2 separate regions of the Homo sapiens genome follow, and region 1 is linked to region 2. A link means that fine-mapping ties the variant in region 2 to the expression of a gene that starts in the linked region. Tissue or cell type: lymphoblastoid cells. Region 2 holds a variant in brackets; the other region holds the start of a gene. All regions are shown on one strand. Distances are between the middles of the regions.

The links. PIP is the estimated chance that this variant, and not a neighbour inherited with it, causes the effect.
Region 1: it holds the start of ARHGAP17, and the variant in region 2 is fine-mapped to the expression of ARHGAP17 in lymphoblastoid cells (GENCORD, PIP 0.95).

The regions. Positions count from the first base shown.
Region 1 is chr16:25,012,040-25,020,221 of GRCh38, forward strand. ARHGAP17 (Rho GTPase activating protein 17) reads right to left here and starts at 3,330. Exons shown (of 20, transcript NM_001006634.3): 1 at 3,170-3,330. The coding sequence starts at 3,222. It also overlaps the pseudogene LOC100421171. RefSeq lists enhancers at 2,218-2,886, 2,887-3,555 and silencers at 2,869-2,918, 2,979-3,028, 3,089-3,138, 3,219-3,468.
Region 2 is chr16:25,896,775-25,904,956 of GRCh38, forward strand. All of the region lies in intron 1 of HS3ST4 (heparan sulfate-glucosamine 3-sulfotransferase 4), which reads left to right. Among named protein-coding and RNA genes, the nearest start is that of MIR548W, 120 kb to the right of the region's middle. The variant G/A (reference allele first, on the strand shown) is at 4,810.

The DNA.
Region 1 (8,182 bases), 880 kb before region 2:
CTCCTGAGCTCCCTCAGGGCAGAAACCATGCCCGTATTCACCTTTGATTCTTTAATACCCTGGATAACAGGACACAGTGTAGGCTCAACAAGTGTCTGTTGAATGCATGAATCAACAAAAGGCAGGTGGACTAAAAGAACCATCCTACTTCTCTTCTTTGGGACACTCACACCATGAGACCACCTCATAAGCCTTGCCCCTGTGAGTTTCAGGCCGTCTTCTCAAATAGACTTACCCACCCATCGTAAACAAACTGCATCATGCGAACTCATTCCTTCCAGGCATTACTAATTCTCTACAAGTCCCTCCCCTGGAACCTTACAGTGAAAGTACTCAAAGGTCTCCCTTCTGAGGAGAATATCTCACTGCAAGACACCACCTAGAATTCCACAAATTGATAAACCAAAACACGATGGGCATGACATTCACATATATAACTTCCTTCTCCACCTAGATCGCAGGGGCGAAAACAAAAAAACCCTTTGCTTTGTAGCCTTCATCTTGACCTAAAAACACCCAGAATCCTGATTCTGGGGCCAACCAACCACCTACTTCCAAGCAGTAACAATTCTAGGCACTCTCCAGCCTCCGTTTATCTTCCTTAGTCCTTTCTGATTACTTAAGCAGAAAACACATACACACACACATCTAGGAAATCAACAGCAAGGAAGCAACAGGTTTCCCAGTTAAAAACAGATGTTCTGACTTTGGGTGCATAATTGCCACACCCTTAATAGTTCTGTAATAGCTTCAGCTTCCACTGGCATCTAGCAATAAAGATTTTTAAAGACAGTCAAAGGTCAGGCCCAGAATTACAGCTCCAGCATGAATCACCATCTACTCTATCCACTTCATGTTTTCCCATACTCGGGCCCACACCACCAAGGCGATCTAGTAAGAACTCAAATACCAGAATTAACAATGTCTACTGCACCCTGGCCATGGGGTAGGAACCACAGCAGACCCTGGGAATCAAAGGAGACACAGCAAGGACTCTCAAGGTATTTATCTGATGGAGAACACACACAAGAGGCAGTCACAGCACAGAAAAGCAAGTGCTACACAGGATTACAAGAACGCCCAGGAGAGGCATCCAATCTATGCTGTAGCATCATAGAAGGCCTTTCAGAGGCAGAGGGACCTTTCCCAGAAGGCTGAAGAATGAGCAAGAGGTGCCTGGAGAAAAGGTGTGGTGGGAGAGGCTTCCAGGAGTTCCAAGTAGATGCTAGCAGGTAAGAAAGCAAGACCTCCTGTGGAAACTGAAGGTAGGCAAGCATGGCCGGAATTTTAAAATGTGAAGGTGCCAGGCAAGGTGGCTCACGCTTGTAGTCCCAGAACTTTGGGAGGCCAAGGCAGGCAGATCAGTTGAGGCCAGGAGTTCGAGACCACCCTAGGCAACATGGCAAATCCCCACTCTACAAAAAATACAAAAATTAGCGGATGTGGTGGTGCCCACCTGTAGTTCCAACCACATAGGTGGCTGAGGCGAGAGGGTCGCTTGAGCCCAGGGAAGTCAAGGCTGCAATGAGACAAGATCGCACCACTGCACCCCAGCTTGGGTGACAAAGGGAGACCCTGTCTCAAAAAAAAAAAAAAGTGTGAAGGGAGAAGCCTCTAAGATGACCCAGGAGTCAAAGAGACCCTAAATAGCTTGGTAGATTTAAGTCTCAGAACTTTGTATAAAAAGAGTGAAAGTCCCTTACCTGTCACGAACAATGTAAAAACAAGCCAAACGACTATTTGACAAATGTATCTTGGCACTTACTAAATACTAGTTCCACAATGCACGTTGCTCAGAACACTAACAAGGGTACGAAACTCACAAGAAATTATCATGTGCTTGTAAACTGTTCCTTGAAACATCAGCCGCCATTACCACACGTCTACCTTCCTCTCAGCATTATTTCTTTAATTTTCCTGCAAATAACAGAAAAGTAGGTTTGTCTGGGCTTTAGGGGCAGCGATTAACCCTGAAAATAAGAGTTAATTCTCACCACAATAATACGGTAGGGAATCGAAAAAATTAAACAAGGAAACTAAGCAAAAAGATGGAGGAAATGAAACAGTAAAAAGCAAATTTAGAAAACTCGAGAGGAAGTAAAAGTATTTTCATACACTCAAAAAAAAGAAGTGTCCCACGTGCTTCAGCCAAACCAAACTCCCCTTAACTGTTAAAAACAGAAAATCAAAAGAAGAGCTGTGAGAAATTCATACTTTCGTATCTCTTTGCTGAATAAACACTAAATCGGTACAGTACAGCCAGCTGCCCTGAAAGACCTTGAAATATTAGCCCCAGATAATACAGCACATGACAGTCACCTCCAGAAACTCTCAAAAACCACAAATCATTTCTTGTTCTGACAACCTGATCTACCAACTCTGGTCTAGCCTGCCATTTAATAATCAATAACGTTTCTTGTTAAGCACTTCAACCGTAGCAAAGGAAGATAAAGAAGCATTTGTTTCCAAACCTAAGGTGAGACTTTTTAAATTGGCGCAAGGCGTCTCCATAATCCTTTTCCGCCAATTCCTAATTTCTAAATGTCAAGAACTGGCAGCAGCAGTCCAGTTCCTAGGAGCCCTGGTTTTGAGACAGCACCACCTCCGAATTCCCTCAAAGGGCGTTCTGAACTCACTGAGCAAATCCGGCTGGCTTTCATGTCCCTCTAGCCATTTCTTGCCGCCATGCACTTACAGGAGAAGGACTCGCAAACAGCGGGAGCACCGGGAAAGCCTGGGACTGCCGCCCCCCACAGCACAGCGCTCGGCACAGCGTTAGGGACAGAAGTCACCGTTGTTGAGCCCAGGGCAGCGATCCCAGCTGGCTCGGCCCCCGGGAAGGGAGGAGAAGGACCGGGTCTACTCCCCGAGGGCGATGCTCCCGGGGCAGGGACAATGGGCAGGGGACCCCGCGGTGTGGCGGAGGAGGCGGCGGCCCTCCCCTGCAGGTCTCGGGAGCCCGGCGGCGCTGAGAGACAGGCGGGCCGCCTGGAGCGCGGCGCTCGGGCCTCAGCGCGGCGCAGCCCCCGGGCCCGTGCCCCGCTGGTCTCGGGCAGGGGCTGCGGCCCAGCTCAGAGCCGCCGGACCGCGGAGGAGCCGTCCCGCCCCCGCGCCCTCCGCCCTCCGCCCCCAGCCCCGGTGCGACCCCCGTGCTGCCCGGCGCACTCGCCTGCCCACGGTCTGGTTAGCCAGCTGCTTCATGCGGTTGAACTGCTTCTTCATGGCGGCGGTGGCGGCGGCGGCCCGCGGGGCTCGGGCCGGGCAGGGCGGGGGACAGCCTGGCAGCTACTACATCGCTTCCCGGCCCAAACGGCGGCGCGGCGGTGGCTCCCCGGGCCGGCGGCCCCGCCCTCGCCTCGTCACTTCCAGTGGCACCGCCCGCCCGCCCTCTAGGTCTGGCCGAGCCGAGCTGAGCCCGAGTAGAGCCGAGTCGAACCGAGCCGAGGCTAACAGTGCCTTACCTGACACGGGCGAAGAGCTAGAAGGCCCCGGGCGAGAAGACCACTAGGCCTCCTCCGCCTGGCCTCCCCGACCCCAACGCTGCCCGGTCACCCTCTCGTTTATTTCAACGTATGAAAAGCTGTTTCTAGCAGGGCGCAGTGGTTCAACGTTGTAATCTCAGCACTTTGGGAGGCCGAGGGGGCAGATCACTTGAGCTCGGGAGTTCGAGAGCAGCCTGGCCAACACGGTGAAATCCTGTCTCTACTAACAATACAAATTTAGCTGGGCGTGGTGGTGGACGCCTGTAATCCCAGCTACTCAGGAGGCTGAAGCAGGAGAACGGCTTTTACCCGAAAGGCAGAGGTTGCAGTGAGCCGAGATGGCGCCACTGCACTCCAGCCTGGGCAACAGAGTGAGAGACCCTGTCTCGAAAAAAAAAAAAAAAAAAAAAATTAAAGTCAATGTGTGTTTTCCTTAACACACGTGCTCACACACTCATGTCTTCCTGGTTTGGTGGCCTTGGCTCCAGGTAAGCCCCTTCTTTGCATTGGATGGGCAGCAATGTGGCTTCTTTCATCAGCCACATCTCAAATGTGCTCCTAAATGTCATAGAAAAAGGAAAGAGCTCCCTAACTATGGGATAAAGGAGACTGATGCCAGTTTGGAATTCTTAATATCAAAGAATGAGGGACTTCAAGATCTTTTTAGTGACCTAGGAGAGACCTAGGAAGCATCAGAGCTTCAGATAGGGCAGCAAACTAAAAGTTATCGACATCAATTACAACAGAAAGAGGTAGAAATGAGCCTTCCTAAAACAAGAAAGCAAGCACTACAGGATCGGTTGCAGGACCGGCAGCCAGCCCTGGAGTCAGCACATTCAGGGAAGGCCGGAGGTTCCCATCCACACTGCATCCCCTCCATTCCATGTGGTACCCATCATGCTTCAGTGTTCCACGACGCTTACATGGGTTTTTATGACATAATTTCATCATAACAAGAAATAAACAGATAGTCCAATGAAGTTCTAAAACTTGAGTCTCCAGTTGGCCATTGGAAATGTATTGCTCAGACTTATAAAATAGGAGGAACAACTAGTTTTGATGAAAATGAAATCTACAAACTACAAACACCAAATATTAATATCATCAAGGAGCTCAAACAAAAAAGAAGTCAGGATACTGATGACCATCAGCTTGAATTATCAGTATTACAGAATGTTCATCAACAGAAATTGAGGGAAATAAGTTGTAAGCATCAAGAAAATCTAAGCAATTAGGAAGAAAAGATTGAAGAACTGGAAAATTTGTTACAGCAAGGTGGCTCAGGAATTACAGTACATGATCTCTCTAAACTTCAAGAGAAGGAAAACACTATTCATGCAAGCTCTACAAATTGAAAAAGTAGAGTCTACCAAAAAATTGAAGAATTTGAACATAGAGTAAAAGACAAATAAAAAATTATCTTCTGGGGCCAGGTGCAGTGGCTCACACCTGTAATCCTAGCACTTTGGGAGGTCAAGATGGGAAGATCACTTGAGCTCAGGAGTATGAGACTAGCCTGGACAACATACTAAAACCTCATCTCTATGAAAAATTTAAAAAAAAAAAAAAGGCCAGAAGCAGTGGCATGCACCTGTACTCCCAACTAGTTGAAAGGCTGAGGCAACAGGATCATTTGAGCCCAGGAATTTGAGGCTGCAGTGAGCTATTATCACACCATTGCACTCTTGTCTGGGTGACAGAGTGAGACCCCTAGCTGAAAAGAGGCTATTGGAAGAAACAACTCTGAGAAAACCATGAAAAGATTGTCCACTGAAGCTAACCTGGAGAGCTCTGCCTTACAGCTAGAGCAAGAGTGTGTAATTAAACTCAGCCACGAGAAAGACTCTGAAATGTCAGCACTCAAAAAGAATATTGAGGCTGGGTGCAATGCATCACACCTGTAATCCCAGCACTTTGGGAGGTCGAGGTAGGTGGATCACCTGAGGTCAGGAGTTCAAGACCAGCCTGGCCAACATGGTGAAACCCAGTCTCTACTAAAAATACAAAAATTAGTCAGGCGTGGTGGCGGGCGCCTGTAATCCCAGCTGCTGGGGAAGCTGAGACGAGACAATCGCTTGAACCTTGGAGGCAGAGGTTGCAGTGAGCTGAGATCTGGCCTCTGCAGGGTGGTCCAGCCTAGGTGACAGGGTGGTCCAGTCAAGGTGACAGAGACAACGTGACAAGGTTACTGTCTCAAAAAAAAAAAAAGAATATTAAACAGATGGACACTGACCATAAAGAAACTAAAGAAAAAGTGCTCCTAAATTTACTCCAAGAGATTGAAGAGCTAAGAAAATCGCTGCAGGAAAAAGATGCAACCATTAGATCCCTCCAAGAAGACAATCAGAGACTGATTTGATTTTGTCATCTAGTTGAGAAGAGCAGAAGCAATTGACACAACTTATAAGAGAGAAAGCAATTTTTTTAAAAAAAAACTTAAAGGAAGTTCAGAGCTTCCAGAGGAATTATTATACTAAAACCTTAAGAAAGAAAGAAAGAAATTTCATAGCAAACCATAGAGGAAAAAGACAGATGTCTTGCATCCATGAAAGAAAAAAAAATCTGATAGAAGAATTGAAATGACTCAGAGGACAACAAAGTCTAACTGCCCCTGTGGCTGAGCCTAGAATGGTAGATACTATTATGGTACTAGAATTGGAGATATTTCAAATGAAAATAATCAAAGGTAATCTTGAGGAGGGAATAAAGTATCATCAAAATATATTTGAAGGTTGGGCATGGTGACTCATGCCTATAATCCCAGCACTTTGGGAGGCCAAAATCACTTGAGGCCAGGAGTTCAAGAAATCACTTGAACTTTGGGAGGCCAAAATCACTTGAGGCCAGGAGTTCAAGACCGGCCTGGCCAACATGGTGAAACCCTGTCTCTACTAAAAATAAAATTAGCCAGGTGCGGTGGAAGTGCCTGTAGTCCCAGCTACTCTGGAGGCTGAGGCAGGAGAATCGCTTGAACCCAGGAGGTAGAGGTTGCAGTGAGCCAAGATCGCACCACTGTACTCCAGCCTGGGCAACAGAAGAAGAATCCGTCAAAAAAAACAAAAACAAAAACAAAAAAGACTGAAGAGGCCAGGCACAGCGGCTCACGTCTGTAATCCCAGCACTTTGGGAGGCCGAGGTGAGTAGATCATCTGGGGTCAGGAGTTTGAGACCAGCCTGGCCAACATGGCAAAACCTTGTCTCCACTAAAAATACAAAAATTAGCCGGGTGTGGTGGTGGGTGCCTGTAATCCCAGCTACTCAAGAGGCTGAGGCAGGAGAATTGTTTGAACCCAGGAGGCACAGGTTGCAGTGAGCCAGGATTGTGCCACTACACTCCAGCCTGGCCGACAGAGCAAGATTCTGTCTCAAAAATAAATAAATAAATAACCATAATTGAAGAGCAAACACAGAGTAAGATGCAACTGCTTCAGTCTTTAAAAGAGGAGAAAAAAGTAGGAAATGGATGATTTTTAAAACCAGCACAAGCAAATGAGTATCACATACACCCAGCTCTTTTCAGTAAAAGGTGAAGAAATTAGGAATTTGCAAAACACAATAGGAAAAGAATCAAAACCCAGCTGCATGAAACAGGACAAGACATTAAAAGACTCTGAGCCATTTTTCAAGCAACAGAAGTTGAATGTCCCAATATAGAAAGCAGAAGTGAAACGCATAGTTTATTTAAATCTGAAACTGAAAGATTAGTGAAAGGAATGAAAGAGCAAGAATTGGAGATTAATCCTGAATCAAGGACCAGAGGGGGAAAGAAAGAATTGGAGAATAAATTTATAAGTAAAAATAATATGACTTTAAACAGATGGATCAGCTGTCCATCAATGGGGTTGGTCAGGAAGATACAGAGGTGCAGGGCCTTCAGGCTAGAACAGCTTCAGCCTCTGACACCCAGGGCGTTGCTCACCTTCAGCAGCAACTGCAAGCACCTGCTTTGGACAGAGAACAAATACAGGCTGTTTGGAATAAGGCAGCTCAAGAAAATAGCTGTCTCAAAAAGGAAGATCACCAAACAATGGATATTATTGCTGGTAATGAAACAGGCCCCCATAAGCTGCAAGAGGAAAATAAAAAACTGTCCACTAGTAATGGTCAGGAGAAATTTAAAGACACTTTTCAGAAGTCATCATGTCTCATTCTAGAAAAAGACATTGAAACAGATGCATTAAGTCAGGAATGTCAAACTTTAGTGACAATTTTGCAAGCATCCAGCACTGGTCATGAGATTGGAGGTGTTAATGGTAATCCGTTTGAGGAGCTTCCACAAGGACCTAATAAATTAAAACAGCCAGTTAAGAAAATGGAAGTGTGGGCCGGGCGTGGTAGCTCATGCCTGTAATCCCAGCCCTTTGGGAGGCCGAGGCGGGCGGATCACCTGAGGTCAGGAGTTTGAGACCAGCCTGGCCAATATGGCAAAACCCCATCTCTACTAAAAATACAAAAAAAAATTAGCCGGGCGTGGTGGCGGGTGCCTGGGAGGCTGAGGCAGGAGAATTGCTTGAACCTGGGAGGCGGAGGTTGCAGTGAGCTGAGATCGCACTATTGCACTCAAGCCTGGGCGACAAAAGTGAAACTCCATCTCAAAAAGAAAGAGAGAGAGAGAGAGAGAGAGAAAGAAAGACAGAGACAGACAGAAATAAAGAAAGGAAGGAAGGACGGAAGGAAGGAAGGAAGGAAGGAAGGAAGGA
Region 2 (8,182 bases):
AAGAAAATGTGGTACATATACACCATAGAATACTACACAGCTGTAAAACAAGAACAAAATCATGTCCTTTGCAGCAACAGGGATGCAGCTGGAGGCCGTTATCTTAAGTGAATTAACACAGAAACAGAAAAGCAAATACCACATGTTCTCACTTATCAGTGGGAGCTTAACATTGGGTGCTTACGGAGTAAAGATGGGAACAGTAGACACTGAGGAATACAAGATGGGGGAGGGTGGAAGGGAACACGGGTTGAAAAACTGCCTACTGGGTACTGTGTTCACTTGCTGAGTGATGGGTTCAATTGTACTCCAAACCCCAGCATTATGTAATATACCTTTGTAGCACACCTGCACATGTGCCCCCAGAGTCTAAAATAAAAGTTGAAAAAAATACTGGGGGCCAGGCACAGTAGCTCACGTGTGTAATCCCAGCACTTTGGAAGGCCAAGGCAGGAGCTCACTTGAGCTCAGGAGTTCGAGACCAGTCTGGGCAACACGGTAAAGCCCCATCTCCACAAAAAATACACAGATTAGCCAGGCATGGTGGTAAGCCTGTAGTCCTAGCTGCTTGGGAGGCTGAGGAGGGAGGATCACTTGAGCTCAAGAGGTCGAGGCTGCAGTGAGCCAGGATTGTGCTGCTGCACTCCAGCCTGGGCAACAAAGTGAGATCCTGTCCCCCCACAAAAATGATAATATAAAATTGGCCCAAAGGGGCACTTTGGACACAGACGGGCTGGCTACATGTGGTTCCGGTCCCAGAGGGGATCCTTTGCTGGCTGCGTGATCATGGGCAAGTCACCCAGTTCCTCTGAGCTCTGGCCTCTTTACAGAACTGTGATAAGGATTGAACTGGATAACACATGGGGAGTGTGTGTGGTGGTAGGGGGGCAGTAGAACCCACCCACAGCTTCCTCTCTCTCCCCCTTCTTCTCTCCCCCTCGTTCTGCCGTTCTGCCTGGGGGAGGTGCTGGATTGTGTTCCTGGCAGGGCTGCCTCACTGAAAAGACTCTGGCTGATGAGATGTTCTTTAGAGCAAGGTTTCAAATCTTTTTTTAGTTTATGTTCAGGTGCTTTGCTTTCCCCCCGCCCCCTTTCTCATTTTAGCAGATGAGGACTCTCGCTATGTGTGACAGCTGATATTCTGAAAATGACAAGGTGCCTCATTTGGGACAGAATGTGCTTGGGGATTTTTATGTGTGTGTGCACTGCGTTCATCTGAGTAGATCCGCGCAGGCGAGCCCTGGCAGTGGGTCACAGTGAGCCGCCTGGGACTCAGACAGCTTCAAGCTCCAACTGAGGGAAAGGAGGAATTCACCCCGGCCTCTGTCCCATGGAGAGCTGCAGAATCTTTCTTGCTCAATGTCTTCTCACTGTCCCTGGATTTTGCTTAGCTTCTATCAAACTAACAACCTCTTGACTCACCACCTGTGTCCAATCTCTCACCCTCAAACTCACCTTGCTTGCAAACTGAAAATGACTTTAGTAGTGCTAATGGCACTCACATAGTTAATACTTATTTTATGTGCCTGGCAGGATCCTGAGCTCCTTGCATGTCATCTACTCATTTATTAACAGCAAGTCTTTGTGAGACCAATCTGATCATTTTCCTCCCTTTCTGCAGAAATATGACTGCCTTCCCATACACTGGATCAAGATTTCCCAAACTTTCCCTTCTTGCAGATCAGCTTCATGGTTTTACGATGTAAGGACATCACTGTGGATGATCTTCATGACTGCTGTCATATAGTATACCACGTATGCCATATGTATGCAAGCTTTTCCTGTAAATTAACTCACTTTGGGAAATATTTATGTAGATTAAAATACAATAAATTATAGCTTTCATTCAAATGCACACTGCCCTTTGCCATCTCTATAAGGTCACCGGAAGCATGAATATGATGAAAACAGAACAAAACCAAACAGTGTTATTAAATCCTCTCTGGGAGCTGTTGACAAGGCACTCTGCCTGAGGCTTGCTCTCTTTGTGCTAAAAATGGGGCATGAATAAGAGAGGGAGATGTTGAAGATAGAGCAACACCAAACCAAGACTTTCTCCTTGGTGCAAAAACAAGACTTACGTGAGAATTTATAAGGGAATACTTTTTTCATGTAACTCAATGCTCTTTAGTGCTGTTTTCATCTGCCTCCTAAAATGCTCTCCTATTCGCTAACAGCAGCGTCTTATTTTGAGAAATACTGGTGGACAAGATGGACCCTAACTTGTTTCACTGTCTAGATGTCTTTCACACCGTGGCACAGTTACTTTTTCTACCAACTGCAAGCTCACCTTTCTTCCTTGATGTCTTTCTCTTTCCAATCTCTCTGTTTTTGCATCTGCTGTTCTCCATGACTGAAAGATCCTGTCCTTAACTGCAAATGGCACACGTCCATGCATTTATTTCAGATGTTACTCCAGTGTTGTCTTCTGTATAAAGTCTTCCTCAAACCCCAAAGCACAGTCAGTCAACCTCTCCTCTGTTGACAATATAAATGTTCCCCCCATATCAGTTGGTGCTGTATACTGAAGGTTTCTGAGGGAGACATTATTAGGTGGCTAACCCAACAGGCATTAACTTCCATCTTCTCTCTTGCTCCTTTCTCTGTAGAAGCTGAAAAGCTTGGGGTATACTTTACCAGCTTTCCCTGAACCTACAGAGGAAGGGCCTATGACCCAGTTCTGTCCAGTGCAATGTCAGGACAGGTATGCTGATTGAACTCCTTTTTAAATTTTTTTTTTTTAATTTTTGAGACGGAGTCTCACTCTGTTGCCCAGGCTGGAGTGCAGTGGTGCGATCTCAGCTCACTGCAACCTCTGCCGTACGTGTTCAAGCAATTTTCCTGTGTCAGCCTCCCAAGTAGCTGGGATTACAGGCGCATGCCACCACGCTCAGCTATTTTTTTTTTTTTGGTATTTTTAGTAGAGATGGGGCTTCACCATGTTGATCAGGTTGGCTGATTGACTTCTAAAAAGGTGTTTTGCTTCTTAGGGGTAAGGAAAACATGGCAAAAACCCCATGAGGACTTCTCCTTCTTCTCTCTTCCTGTCTTAAAGGCAAATGTGAGAACTCCTTCAGTGGCAGCCTGCTGTGATCACACAGTAACAAACATAAGAAGGATGGGTCAATATAACAAGGAAGGAAGAATAGAAAGGAGCACACATCCCATTAGGAAATCATGAAGCTGCCAGGCCAACCCTGGGACCAGCAACTTTCAAATTCCTGGTTAAATAAATCATAAATGTTCTCCTGCTTTGAGCCATTGTTAGCTAGAAGTTCTGTCATGCATAGTTGAAAACATTCTTAACAGATAGTTTAACTGGTCTTCATTCCTTACTGGATTTTGTGTAATTTTAAGATAGGTGTGTAACGTTTATCTTGGTAATCTTGTCATTCAAATAGGGTACGTGGTAGTATTTATTATTAGTTACCTACAAAACAGCTTATATTTATTCAAACTCTATGTTCTTCTGTTTCCCGAGCTTGGATCCTTAATCCCTATTGTTATTAATGTCATTAATGAAAGTGGAATGAATGAAAAAATGAATGAATAACTTACCAACAGGAGGATTTGCAAAAAATGCTTTTTATGCCACCTTTAACAACTTTATTAGAATTTATATTATAATGAAAAAAGTGAGTCTCTGTTGTTTGTTCTGTATTTATTTTGTTTTTGATTTATTTTTATTTTTTGCTTTTTGTATCCTAACCCATAAGAATTTACATTCTTGAGCTTTCAGGGAGGCATTTAAGGGAGACAGTCAGGGTGTTATTTGGATCCTCACATGTGCCAGGCGTGTTAGGAGTGCGGGTTAATGCAATACAACAACATTGGGATGTAGCTGTTATTGCTCCCTTATTACCCGAGGAATGATAGACTTGGGTAAACTTGATAAAGAAGCAGAGAGCTGTTGAGGCTGCAGGGCAATGGTAAAACATACACACTGGCTGGATAGATTGCTGGAATCTATAGCATCTTACCCCCAAACTCCCGGCACTGTAACATGGGACCTCAGGGAGTGACATGGGACCTCAGGGAGAACTAGGGATTTTTTTCTCCCACTATACCCTGCAAAATAAAGAGAGTTGAAGATTTTAATGTAGTCCTAGATTACATGATTACATTACTCTAGATGCCATGTTCTTCCTACTCTGTTACTCAGCACCTGCTTGAGAAGCCGCCATGATACTCTGCTACTGACATTGATCTTTTATTCTGGAAAGTCAAGACCATGGAACCCCTTGGCGCATCCTTGGAGAGAAGAGTTGAGTAATGACCTGTGTGGTATTAGGGGAGGATCTCTGGCTTCCCTGAGCTCATATGCATGGAATCCTCCTTAGCTAGTAGTTACTCTCTCATCTCCTCTGCAGTTTCCTGGTGAAGTTACCTGTGACAAATTTCTCCCTTGCCCCTGAGTACTTTTCTCTGTTTCTGCCCTAAGACTTAGTAGCTGTGGTCCATGGGGTCCCAGGGCCATGTAAAAATGTCTGAGAATGGCTCTCAGCATCTGCAGAAACTTAACCAGTCTCATGAGGGCTGGCAGTGCAATATCCCACGTCCAGCTCCAGGGAGTACTAGAAAATCTTCAGCAACCATTCTTAAAATGCTCTTTCAGACTGGGAGTGGTGGCTTACGCCTATATTCCCAGCACTTTGGGAGGCTGAGGTGGGTGGATCACTGGAGGTCAGGAGTTCAAGACCAGCCTGGCCAACATGGAGAAACCCCGTCTCTACCAAAAATGCAAAAATTAGCCAGGCGTGGTGGCTGGTGCACATCTGTAATCCCAGCTACTCAGGAGGCTGAGGAGGA[G/A]AATCGGTTGAACCCAGGAGGCAGAGGTTGCAATGAGCCGAGATCGTGCCACTGCACTCCATCCTGGGTGACAGAGCGAGACTCTGTGTCAGAAGAAAAAAAATGCTCTCTCATCTTTCTTCTTCCTTTCTCTGTTCTCACACAGAAGAGCTGTTTCAGCCCCTCTTTCCTCAAGCTACCTACTGCTCTTCCTCCATCCTTGCTTTCTCTTATCTTTTTCTTGTCCTCTCACCACTCCTTTCATTTTTTCCATTACAGAATTCTCCCAAAAAACTGGCAAGGCAGGGCCTTCCTTTAAGTTTTGGAAAATGGAGAAAAAATGAGTTTCACTTGCAAGGAAAGTTTGGAAACACAAGTGTAATAACACCGTTGTATCTTATCATATGTCTGTGTCTCCCATCTACCAGGTCTGTTGCTGGGTCTCTGCTTATGTCTACCTCTGCATCACATCTCCACCACGATATGGGTGTTAATCTATTGTTCTTTTTTTCTGCATTTCCCCATTTCTTCCTCACCTATCTCCTACTCCTGCCCCCAACCAAATTGATAATCAGCTCACTGTCCATGGCCTTGAGTGGAGATATGATAGGAAGAAAACTGATGTTGTCACCCCTACACTTTCTTCCTGGCTTTTGTATTCAAAAGATGAAGCCCGGCATCATGGTGGCTCATGCCTGCAATCCCACACGTTGTGAGGACAAGATGGGAAGATCGCTTGAGCCCAGGTGTTTGAGACCCCGTCTCTACCAAAAAATTGAAAAAATTAGCTGGGTGTGGTGGTGCACATCTGTGGTCTCAGCTACTCTGGAGGCTGAGGTGGGAGGATTGCTCAAGGCTGAAGCTGCAGTGAGTTGTGATCATGACTGCACTCCAGCCTGGGCAACAGAGTGAGATCCTATCTCAAAAAAAAGAAAATAAAAAAAGATGAAACCATAGAAAAGACAATTATTTTGGATATGAAGTAGCATCATGGGAGGAGTGTGGGTCCCCTCCTCATAACCCTGGAAAGAGGTTTTCTACCTTCAACCCATCAGTTGGGAGATGAGTGAAGAGGGTTGACAGAGAGATCTCTGGGTACAGAAGGGAGGTGACCCAGGCTACACTTCCTAGACTCATGAACGGGAACCCATAAAATCACAAGAAAGCGGCAATGTGGTGGTTCTAGGCAAATGGGACTCCAGACAGCATTAAAAACAAAAAAAACAGAACAAAAAAAACAACGTCTGGCGGATGCCTGGGTGCAGTGGCTCATGCCTGCAATTCCAGCACCTTAGGAGGCTGACGCAGATGGATTGCTCGAGCCCAGGAGTTCAAGACCAGCCTGGTCAACATGGTGAGACCCTGTCCATACAAAAAAATACAAAAATTGGCTGGGCATGGTGGCATGAGATTGTGTCACTGCACTCCAGCCTGGGTGATGGAGTGAGACTCTGCCTCAAAAAAAAAAAAAAATGTATGGTGTTAAGCTTGATAATGAAGCAGAGAGCTGTTGAGGCTGCAGGGCAATAGTAAAACATCCATACTGGCTGGAAAGATTGCTGGAGTCTACAGCATCTTACCCCCAAACTCCTTGCACTGTGACATTAGACCTCAGGGAGAAATAGTGATTCTTTTTTCTCCCACTATACCCTGCAAAATAGAGACTTAGGATAAGAACTGAAGTTGTTTTACAGGAAGATGAAGAATATACGTGTGTGTGTGTGTGTGTGTGTGTGTGTGTATGTATATGTATATATTATATATATGTATATGTATATATTATATATATGTATATGTATATCTTATATATATATATATATAAAATCACATATCACACACACACACAATTTGGACTCTCATGTTTGAATGCTGTAATTCATGCCTGATTCATTGCATCATTACCTATAACAATATGTATATTGATATGGGTATGGTTAAATTAAGTGCCCTTCAACTTTGCACAGTCCATTCTCAGGGCATCCCTTGTAGATCCACATAGCAACTGACGTTCCTTACTTATTAGAAGCAAAAGGGAGGATTGAGCATACTTGTCCACATCTTTACCTCTTCTTTCTTCCTTATGCCTGTCACTCTATACTCTCATTTCTGTTCTGCCATCTTGAACTTCCTCCAGTGCTTCCTGCATGCTAGGCTTTCTCTCACACAGAGCTTGCACACCTGTTGTTACTGATGTCTAGAACTGCTTCCATACTCCCCTCCCACATTCTCTAAACAATACGCACTTTTTTGCCTGAATAGTTTTTGCATGTCCTTCAAGCCACAGTTCAGAGGTCATTTTCCATGTTTTAGGAAAATTCATTTGACCACTATTTTCCAAACTTGACGTATTTCCAGCACCTAAATAGTTCACCTAAAATGTACTACAGCTTAATAAATATTTGGTGAATGAGAGAACATTGAAATGAATCAATGGGTGGATAAATGAATAAGTGAGTGAATACATGCATGGGTAGATTAGTGATGAAACGATGGATGGATGACTGGATGAATAGATGGATGGATGCATGGATGAATGAATGGATGAATGGATGGATGGATGGATGGATGGATGGATGGATGGATGGATGGATGAATGGATGAATGGATGGATGGATGGATGGACGGATGGACAGATGAATGGATGGATGGATGGACGGATGGATGGATGAATGGATGAATGGATGGATGGAAGAATGGATGGATGAGTGAATGATGTTTGGCATTTCTAACCTCTCATGTCTTAGTGATAAATATAAGTAAAAAATATTCACTGCTCTTCAACTTCTTTGAGTCCATCATGCTGGTCAAGCATTTCCATATCCTTCATCTTGGTGTCAAAGCATTGAAATAACAGGTGGCAACATTTGCTTTTTAAAATCGAATATACTTTTGAGCTGCCAGAGGTGAGATTATTAAATGGGAAGCATAAATCTCTTCTTTAGTTTTTATACATTAGCACTGGCCGTCAGAATAGGGCACTTTCACTGGCTTGTGGGGACAGGTTGCTTGGCTTCCCAGATATCCAAGGGCAATGAAAGTCATTCATTCATTTATTCCTATCTTCATTCATTTTTTCAATAAGTCTTTCAATATAGCTTGGTAATCAAGAGAAAGAATTTTGAGATTTTAATAATACCTAATTCTGATTCTGTTTGCCAGTTAGTAACTGTGCATCTCTGGGACAGTTATGTATCTTTTCTGAGCCACACCTCGTTCCTGTATAAAGCGGGGCTCATGTATAAAAAAAGTATTTAACTGTAGGGTTGTTTTAAGCATTATATGAGTTAATAAATGTGAAGCATTTTGGACAGCGCCTGGTACAGAGTCAATGGTCAACAAATGTTAGCTCTTATTATAAATTTCCTCATATGTGAATTCCTCCTGTCCTCAAATG